2 linked regions of the Homo sapiens genome follow. The protein of the gene in region 2 purifies or fractionates together with the protein of the main gene of each other region. This does not show direct contact. Each region holds a gene or a part of one and is shown on either strand. Other genes may lie near its edges.

Region 1 (3,815 bases), on a different chromosome or scaffold from region 2:
TCTACACGTCCGGCACATCTCAGGGGAGTTTTTATCCTGGAAGCTTCCTTTTTCACACTGACACACGGTGTCTCTGGTCGTGGTACAGGAACTTTTATTTGTTTGACCTGACAACAGAGCATAAGGTTTTGAGAATGTGTTTCCCTGACATGTCTGTCCACCCTTCCTCACCACCCCATCCCCTCCCACTCAGCTCAACTCAGTTCACCAAGGAGTTCTGAGGGCTGGTTTCTGCACCAGCACACTCGGGACTCATACAGGACACCCACCCTGTATGTAAGGACCAATACAAAAGGACCGTGATTCATTATTTATTATATCAGGTTAGGGGAAAAGCATTGTTTAGATGGCATGGTCAGTAGCAAGGGAGGCGCAAGGGCATCACCTGAGAGACTCTGCAAGGAGAGGGGCCCTTGGGGGACTTCCCAAAAGCCCCGGCCTTGCTGGGGAAGAGGAAGGGGCCTGAGAACCTGAAGGCTAAGTGAGGCCAAGCACCTTTCAGGAGCACAGAGCCCGGGAGGAGAGAGCCTGGCCACGGAGCAGACCTGTGCCACTGCTGGAACCCAGCCCTGTCCACTGGGCCAGGCCTCCTCTATGCTGTAATGATGCCCCCACCCGGCTGCAGGCAATAGTTTAGAAGATTTCCCAGCCTGGTGGCATGCATTACAGAAAAGATTTTGGCCAGGCGCAGTGGCTCACACCTGTAATCACAGCACTCTGGGAGGCTGAGGCAAGCGGATCACCTGAGGTCGGGAGTTCGAGACCAGCCTGGCCAACATGGAGAAACCCTGTCTCTACTAAAAACACAAAAAACTGGCTGGGCACGGTGGCTCATGCCTGTAAGCCCAGTACTTTGGGAGGCCGAGGTGGGTGGATCACGAGGTCAGGAGATCGAGACCATCCTGGCTAACACGGTGAAACCCCGTCTCTACTAAAAATACAAAAAAAAATTAGCCGGGTGTGGTGGCGGGCACCTGTAGTCATAGCTACTCAGGAGGCTGAGGCAGGAGAATGGCGTGAACTCAGGAGGCGGAGCTTGCAGTGAGCCGAGATCGCGCCACTGCACTCCAGCCTGGACAACAGAACGAGACTCCGTCTCCCAAAAAAAAAAAAAAAAAAAAAAAATTAGCTGGGTGTGGTGGTGCATGCCTGTGATCCCAGCTACTTAGGAGGCTGAGGTAGAAGAATCACTAAACCTGGGAGGCAGAGGTTGCAGTGAGCCAAGATCATGCCATTGCCCTCAAGCCTCAGCAACAAGAGTGAAACTGTCTTCAAAAAAATAAATAAATAAAAGAAAAGAAAAAAAAGATTTCTATTTTTTTTTTTTAATCAACTAGTCATAATCATGGAACAGGGCATGATGAAGACTACCAAGTTGGGCTAGAACTTGGTTCCCCGACTCACATCGGCTACAGCTCCCACCTCATCACTATGCACTCCACCTCTGGGCAAGGGGTCCACACATTCTGTACCTGATTTACAAACTGTACATAGCAGGCAAGAAGGCAAATTGTTGGAAGCAATGGTGTAATCCACACCCTCTGTGCACGGGTTACAGGCTCCAGTATATTCTGATCTATGAGATCCTGGGAAGGGAGAGAAAAGTTAATGAATGAGTCACCACAGAATTCCCAGAGGCTGACAATGGCTGGCAAATTTCTCTTTTGGCCCTCAGTGGAATCCAGACAGAGAAATCTGCTCTTCTTGGCTTGGTCTTGTCATCAATTCTGCATCTATTACACTATTACATACCTTTGACTGGCACTGCTGACAGAAATATAATACAAATCACATGCAAAATTCAAATTCTATGAAAGCCACATTAAAATAGTACAAAGAATGAGGTCAAATTAATTTTAACTATTTTTTAGCCTAAAAATATCCAAAACACTACATTTCAATATGTAATCAATATAAATATTTGAAATATTTTATCTTTTTTTGGCCAGGCACGGTGGCTCACGCCTGTAATCCCAGTACTTAGGGAGGCCAAGGCGGACGAATCACGAGGTCAGGAGATCGAGACCATCCTGGCTAACACAGTGAAACCCCATCTCTACTAAAAATACAAAAAATTAGCCGGGCGTGGTGGCAGGCACCTGTAATCCTAGCTACTCGGGAGGCTGAGGCAGGAGAATGGCGTGAACCCGGGAGGCAGAGCTTGCAGTGAGCTGAGACTGTGCCACTGAACTCCAGCCTGGGCGACAGAGCAAGACTCTGTCTCAAAAAAAAAAAAAAAAAAGAAAAGAAAAGAAAAGAAATATTTTATCTTTTTTAAAATTTTTTTTGGAGACAGAGTTTCACTCTTGTCACCCAGGCTGGAGGGCAATGGCGCGACCTTGGCTCACTGCAACCTCCACCTCCCAGGTTCAAGCGATTCTCCTGCCTCAGCCTCCTGAGTAGCTGGGATTACAGGCACCCACCACCACGCCCAGCTAATTTTTTGTATTCTTAGTTGACACGGTGTATCATCATATTGGCCAGGCTGGTCTCCAACTCCTGACCTCAGGTGATCCACCCTCCTCGGCTTCCCAAAGTGCTGGGATTACAGGCGTGAGCCACCATGCCACGCCCAGTCTACTTTTTTTTTTTTTTAACAATAAAATAAAATAACAAAATAAAATCCAACCTCATCTACATGTGATCTGCCCATGCTGGTCCACCTGACCTGTTTGCTGTCCACTCACTATGGTGGCCCCGTCTCTGCTCGGTATCCCCCAGCGCCTGCACCCTGGGACTGTCATTCCTAGGGAGGCTGCTCAGGAGCACCATTTCTGGCTCTCTGCACAACTATCCCTGTCCAGCTTTGGAGACTGGCCAAAATCACCATCCCCGAGAGGCCCCACCAACCTCGTCTCTGTCTCACTCATCACTTAATTTCTTCATGGTTCCTATCAGGAATTTCTGACTGTTATTTTGATCTGTGTGTCTTAATACTATCCCAGAGAAAAGGTTCCACGAGGGCAGGGCCTCTTATAATTATCCCATTAGCACGGTGCCTGACTGACAGAAATCATCCAACATGTCCCTATGGAATAAAGAACCAGAAAGTGCAGGAAACAGAAGTCTGGAAACACATAGAGATAAGGGCATGATAAAGGCATGATAAGCTAAGATATCAGTCTTAGCTTGTGCCTTCGGGCTAGCACTACAGACCCAGGATCCTGACCCACCTCCATAGATTCAGCTTCCAGATCTGTCCTAGTGCCAGGTCAGTCCCCATGAACTCAGGCTCCAGGCCCTTCCCTGTGGACCCAAGGATGAGACCCATCACAGCACCTGGCTGACATCTGCAGACCCAAGTACAAGGCCTATTCCAGTGCCAGTTCAGCCCTCATGGAGCCAGGCCTCAGGTCACCTCTCTGGATACTGGCTCTGACCACCCTTGAACCACACCACATGGCCTGCCCAGAATCTGTGAACAGGCTGACTGGTGAAGGGCGTTCCCTGACAAAGCCAGTCTGTAAATACTGGATTAAGTCCCTGCTTCTTCAAAGTGCACATTCCAACATATTGCCACAGGCTCCTGAGCAATCAGGGAACAGTGACGGCACCAAAGAAACAAAATGAAGCACAAGTAACCAACCCGAAAGGAATAGACATTTACAACAGCCTGACAAAGACTTGAAAACAGTCATCTTACAGAAGCTCAGTCAGCTACTAGAGAATATGGATAGACAACTAAGTCATGTCAGGAAAACAATACATGAACAAAATGAGTAGTTTAATATACACAGACAACATAATAAAGAAGAAAGCAGAAATTCTAAAATTAACAACAACACAATATCTGAACTAAGAAAATTCCACAGAGA
Region 2 (3,915 bases):
CCCTGATTTTCATTCAAGAATCCATTCCTCTATAACTGGTCTATGACTCCACAGATAAGCCATTCTATTTCCTAAGCAACAACACTTGTTTTGAGTGGGCATGTGACCCAAGCTTATCCCATTATGGTGAATCTCTGGATTCTTGTTTGGATTAGCAACTAAGAAATGTTCTCTCTTCAGAGATGGACCAGAAAAAAGATAACCAAAATCAGGAGCTTTGGCAGCCTTTTTGTTATATAAGGGAAACCAGCCCAAGGAAAATGACCCTTGGAAAAAAAGTGGAGAAGAAAGCCAATGTCCAATTAAAGCCATGCAGAAAATCCATCCTTCTTCTAGACTTTTCATTTGTAAGAGCCACTAAATCTTTTCTATTTTCTAAGCCAGTCTATTAACTGAAAGTAGAAGTATACACTTGATTGAATCCTTTGTTCTTTCTGGGCTTCTTTTGGTCCCCCCGGGGCAAATGAATGGCAAAAGAGTAACGAGCGAAAAAAAACTTTAATAGCTTTTAATCTTTATGCTGCAACATATACTCTTGTATATGCACAGAATGTATATTCTGTATATAAGACACCAAAATATATATTTTTGGGGGAAAGGTGTCAGGGGCTAAAGTGAAAGATTCACTTTTTACTAACTCTCCTCCTATAATGGTTGAATATTTTTAAAACCATGTGCACATATTACTTTTTAAAGTTAAAATAACAAAAAATAAGCTGCTAAAGATATCTCAAAAGAAGCTTTTTCCTGAGGGACTTACTAATATGGTAAGTACAGTAGCACTGTAAAGCCTTTTAACACTTTTGGTCACATAAAATTTTTGTTGTTAAAATTCCTGCTGTGCAACAAGTAAGTCCTTACTTGTCATCTTTCTCTTTTGTCTTTTTGTGCACCATCTCTCGGAAACTGGCTAAAATCTTACTTTCTCTCTTTCGTCTCTCTTCTTGGTTAAAGGATGCAAGAGCTCTCTTCTCATCAGCACTGTAGATCTGGTTCTCCTTACGCAGTCGTACAGCCTCCATTCTGCGATGCCTGCTACCACTCATGACATAACCTGAGCATTCAAAAGAACCGATCTCTTCACTTGTCAACCCAATTTCACCTCTTCGTGGGATTCGCTTTCCAGCTTTTACATACTCAGCCATAGCTGCACCTTCACCGGGAAGCAAAGCATGGCCATACTTCAAAGGTTTTTCATCTTGAGAGGTATGTATTATAGGTGCTTCTGGCCCTATTAAATCCATAGTATCTGCCACATTTGGCTGCTCCATCCAGGTAGCTTCTGACAAGTCCTCTTCTGAGTCTTTACAGCTTGAGTCACTGGATTCTTTTTTGGTTTTCTTATTCTTCTTTTTCTTTGTTTTGTGTTTCTTTTTCTTCTTTTTCTTCTTGGCTTTAACTCTCTTTTTATCATCATCAGAGTCAGAATTTGTGTCAGACTCTGAGTTACTGTCACTATCAGAATATTTCCTATGCTTTCTTTTAGACGACTTATTCTTTCTTTTTTTCTTGTTTCTTGAACGACTGGTCTTCTTTTTCCTATGTTCTTCCGAGTTGGAATCTGAACTGCTGCTTTTCTGATGCGTTACCTCTTCTTCATCCTCAACTGGGGTATGTTCGTCAGAATCTAGCTGAGGGAACTTTGGAGACGGCCCCCACACTTCAGGCGCTCCCAATTCCCCAATCCTCTCTCTCTCCTTCAGCCTCCTCTGCCGATGGCTCTCTTCCTTCTCGTAGTCTTCCGCTGACTGCCGTTCTTCTGCATAGCAGTGACGATGGTAGCGATATCCACTATACGAGGTCGACCAGGAGGACGCGAAGGCGTAGTTGCGGAATCTTGGGAGCCGCCCTCGCGACCCAGAGCGACTAAAGGGGTAAAGAGCGCCCACGTCCAACTCACTCCAAGGAGGCCTGAGGCCCTCACGGCCGCGGGAGTGAGAGCGGGAACAGCCATCCCAAGAGGAACATCTGCTCTGCGGGGATGGTGGGCTCCCCGAGGAGCTGCGTCGCCTTCTCCGAGAGCCCACGATGTCCTCGGAATAGCTGGACCGGGATACTGGGGGCATGAGCCGCGCCTCAACGCTGGGCGGTTGCTACAGACCCAGAGGCTGGCTGGTGATTCGCGGCCACGCAGGCGCACTAGAATCGGCCTCCCACGCACGGCTTCCGCTTCCTGTCAGTTACCAAACGGAAAACGAATCCGCGCGTGTGCTATGTGGGGCGGGCCTTGGCTGCGTGAAGGCTTCTTGTGGGAAGTAGGTAGGATTAGGGTGCGCCTGTTTTTAGGACTTATATTCCCCAACTTGAGCCGTGTGGGAACATAAAAGGACGAATTTGCGTCAATGATCCCCTCTACTGTTGGAACACCCACTTCTCTTTTTCGATTTCGCTTTTACCATTTTGCTTCTCACCCTTTGTTCTTCCCTTTCATTTCCACCTCCTTAACTTTACCCCTCTGTGGAAGATCCCTACTACCAACGCTCCTCCTTTTTTCCTTCCTAAAAAAGGAACTTGTCCACCCTCTTCGTGGAGGAAATATGTTTAATTAATCACTTCCCAACCCCCCTTGTTACCACTGGAAGCAAGAACCAAAACTTCTTTTGGAATCAGTTTGAGCTCACCCTCTAAGCTAGGTGAAGGCCAAAGTCGTACTTTTTTTTTTTTTTTTTGGAGACAGGATCTCACTCTGTCGCCCAGGTTGGGGTGCAGTGGCACGATCATGGCTCAGGGCCGACTTGACTTCCTAGGTTCAAGAGATCCTCCCGAGGAGCTGGGACTGCAGGTGCCCACCACCACGCCAGGTTGATTTTTTTAATAATTATTTGTAGAGACCGTTGTCACTTTGTTTCTGAGTCTGGTCTCAAACTCCTGGGTTCAAGCGATCCTCCCACCTCAGCCTTACAAAGTGCTGGAATTACAGGTGTGAGCCACCATGCCCGGCCCAGAGTCATGATTTTAATTATTAAATTCACAGACTTTTCCACCCTAGAAACACACAGAAGCATCCCACTCGATCTTGTAGACAGATGTCTTTCTATCTAGGGAGACTTCTTCAGAAACTTTGTAGTTTGGAAACCACTTTCTCGATACACATTAGATCTCACTCTCAGAAATGATAAACGTTTTATGCAAGATCATTTATCTCTCATCTTAAAATGTAAATAGGCATTAACATCATCTTGGTTCTCTCTAATTAAGTTGATCTGCTCAGTTGTTTGACAGCCAGGTCAAAACTTAAGAATGATGCCTTCCTGATGCTAGAACTCTAAACAACAAAATGGGGGAAATTAAATTGAATAAGACCAAATCATATCATTTGCTCTAAGTAGAATTTTAGTACTTTGATTGAAGGGGATAAGAATTGGTTCCATACATAAATTATATGAATTTAGGAACTGGTAAACAGCAGGGAGTATTATATGTGAATGGTCACATGTATAGTGAAAATATCATATGGATAGGGTGAGTACTATAGAGTTTGTGTAAGTAAAGAAAATTTTCTTTTGGAGTTATAAACTACTTGATAGGCCAATGAAATGGATATGTCTTACTTGGATAATTGTAAATTTAAGCCATTTAGTATCTGATGTAGACTTGAATTACAAAGCTGGTTGATGAAATACTTCTTTCAGGTAGCGACACAGGAAAATGAAATTTAGAATATATTTTTGATCTTTAGAAAAGTTATGACCTAGACTAGGGGCTGGCAATCCTTTTCTGCAAAAGGCCAATAGTAAATATTTTAGGCTTTGTGGGCCAAGAGGCAAAATTGAGGATATTATTACATACTTTTTTTAAGACAAAATATACATTTATTTTAAATGATAAAGCATAATCAACAATTTGTTCAATTATTCCAAGGAAGAGATAACTGTTTTTTTTTAATTTTTATTATAAGTTCTGGGATACATGTGT

What was found.
Region 1: the proteins of NKAPL (region 2) and TNFRSF10D purify together in Homo sapiens (affinity purification with mass spectrometry; one large-scale study listed by BioGRID and IntAct). This does not show direct contact.

What each region holds. Positions count from the first base shown.
Region 1 is NC_000008.11:23,146,966-23,150,780, forward strand, and holds part of TNFRSF10D (tumor necrosis factor receptor superfamily member 10D precursor), read right to left. Parts: intron 1,587-3,815; coding exon 1,473-1,586; intron 108-1,472; coding exon 1-107. UniProt on the Homo sapiens protein: Receptor for the cytotoxic ligand TRAIL. Contains a truncated death domain and hence is not capable of inducing apoptosis but protects against TRAIL-mediated apoptosis. Reports are contradictory with regards to its ability to induce the NF-kappa-B pathway.
Region 2 is NC_000006.12:28,257,523-28,261,437, reverse strand, and holds NKAPL (NKAP-like protein), read right to left. Parts: upstream 2,142-3,915; 5' UTR 2,067-2,141; coding exon 858-2,066; 3' UTR 480-857; downstream 1-479.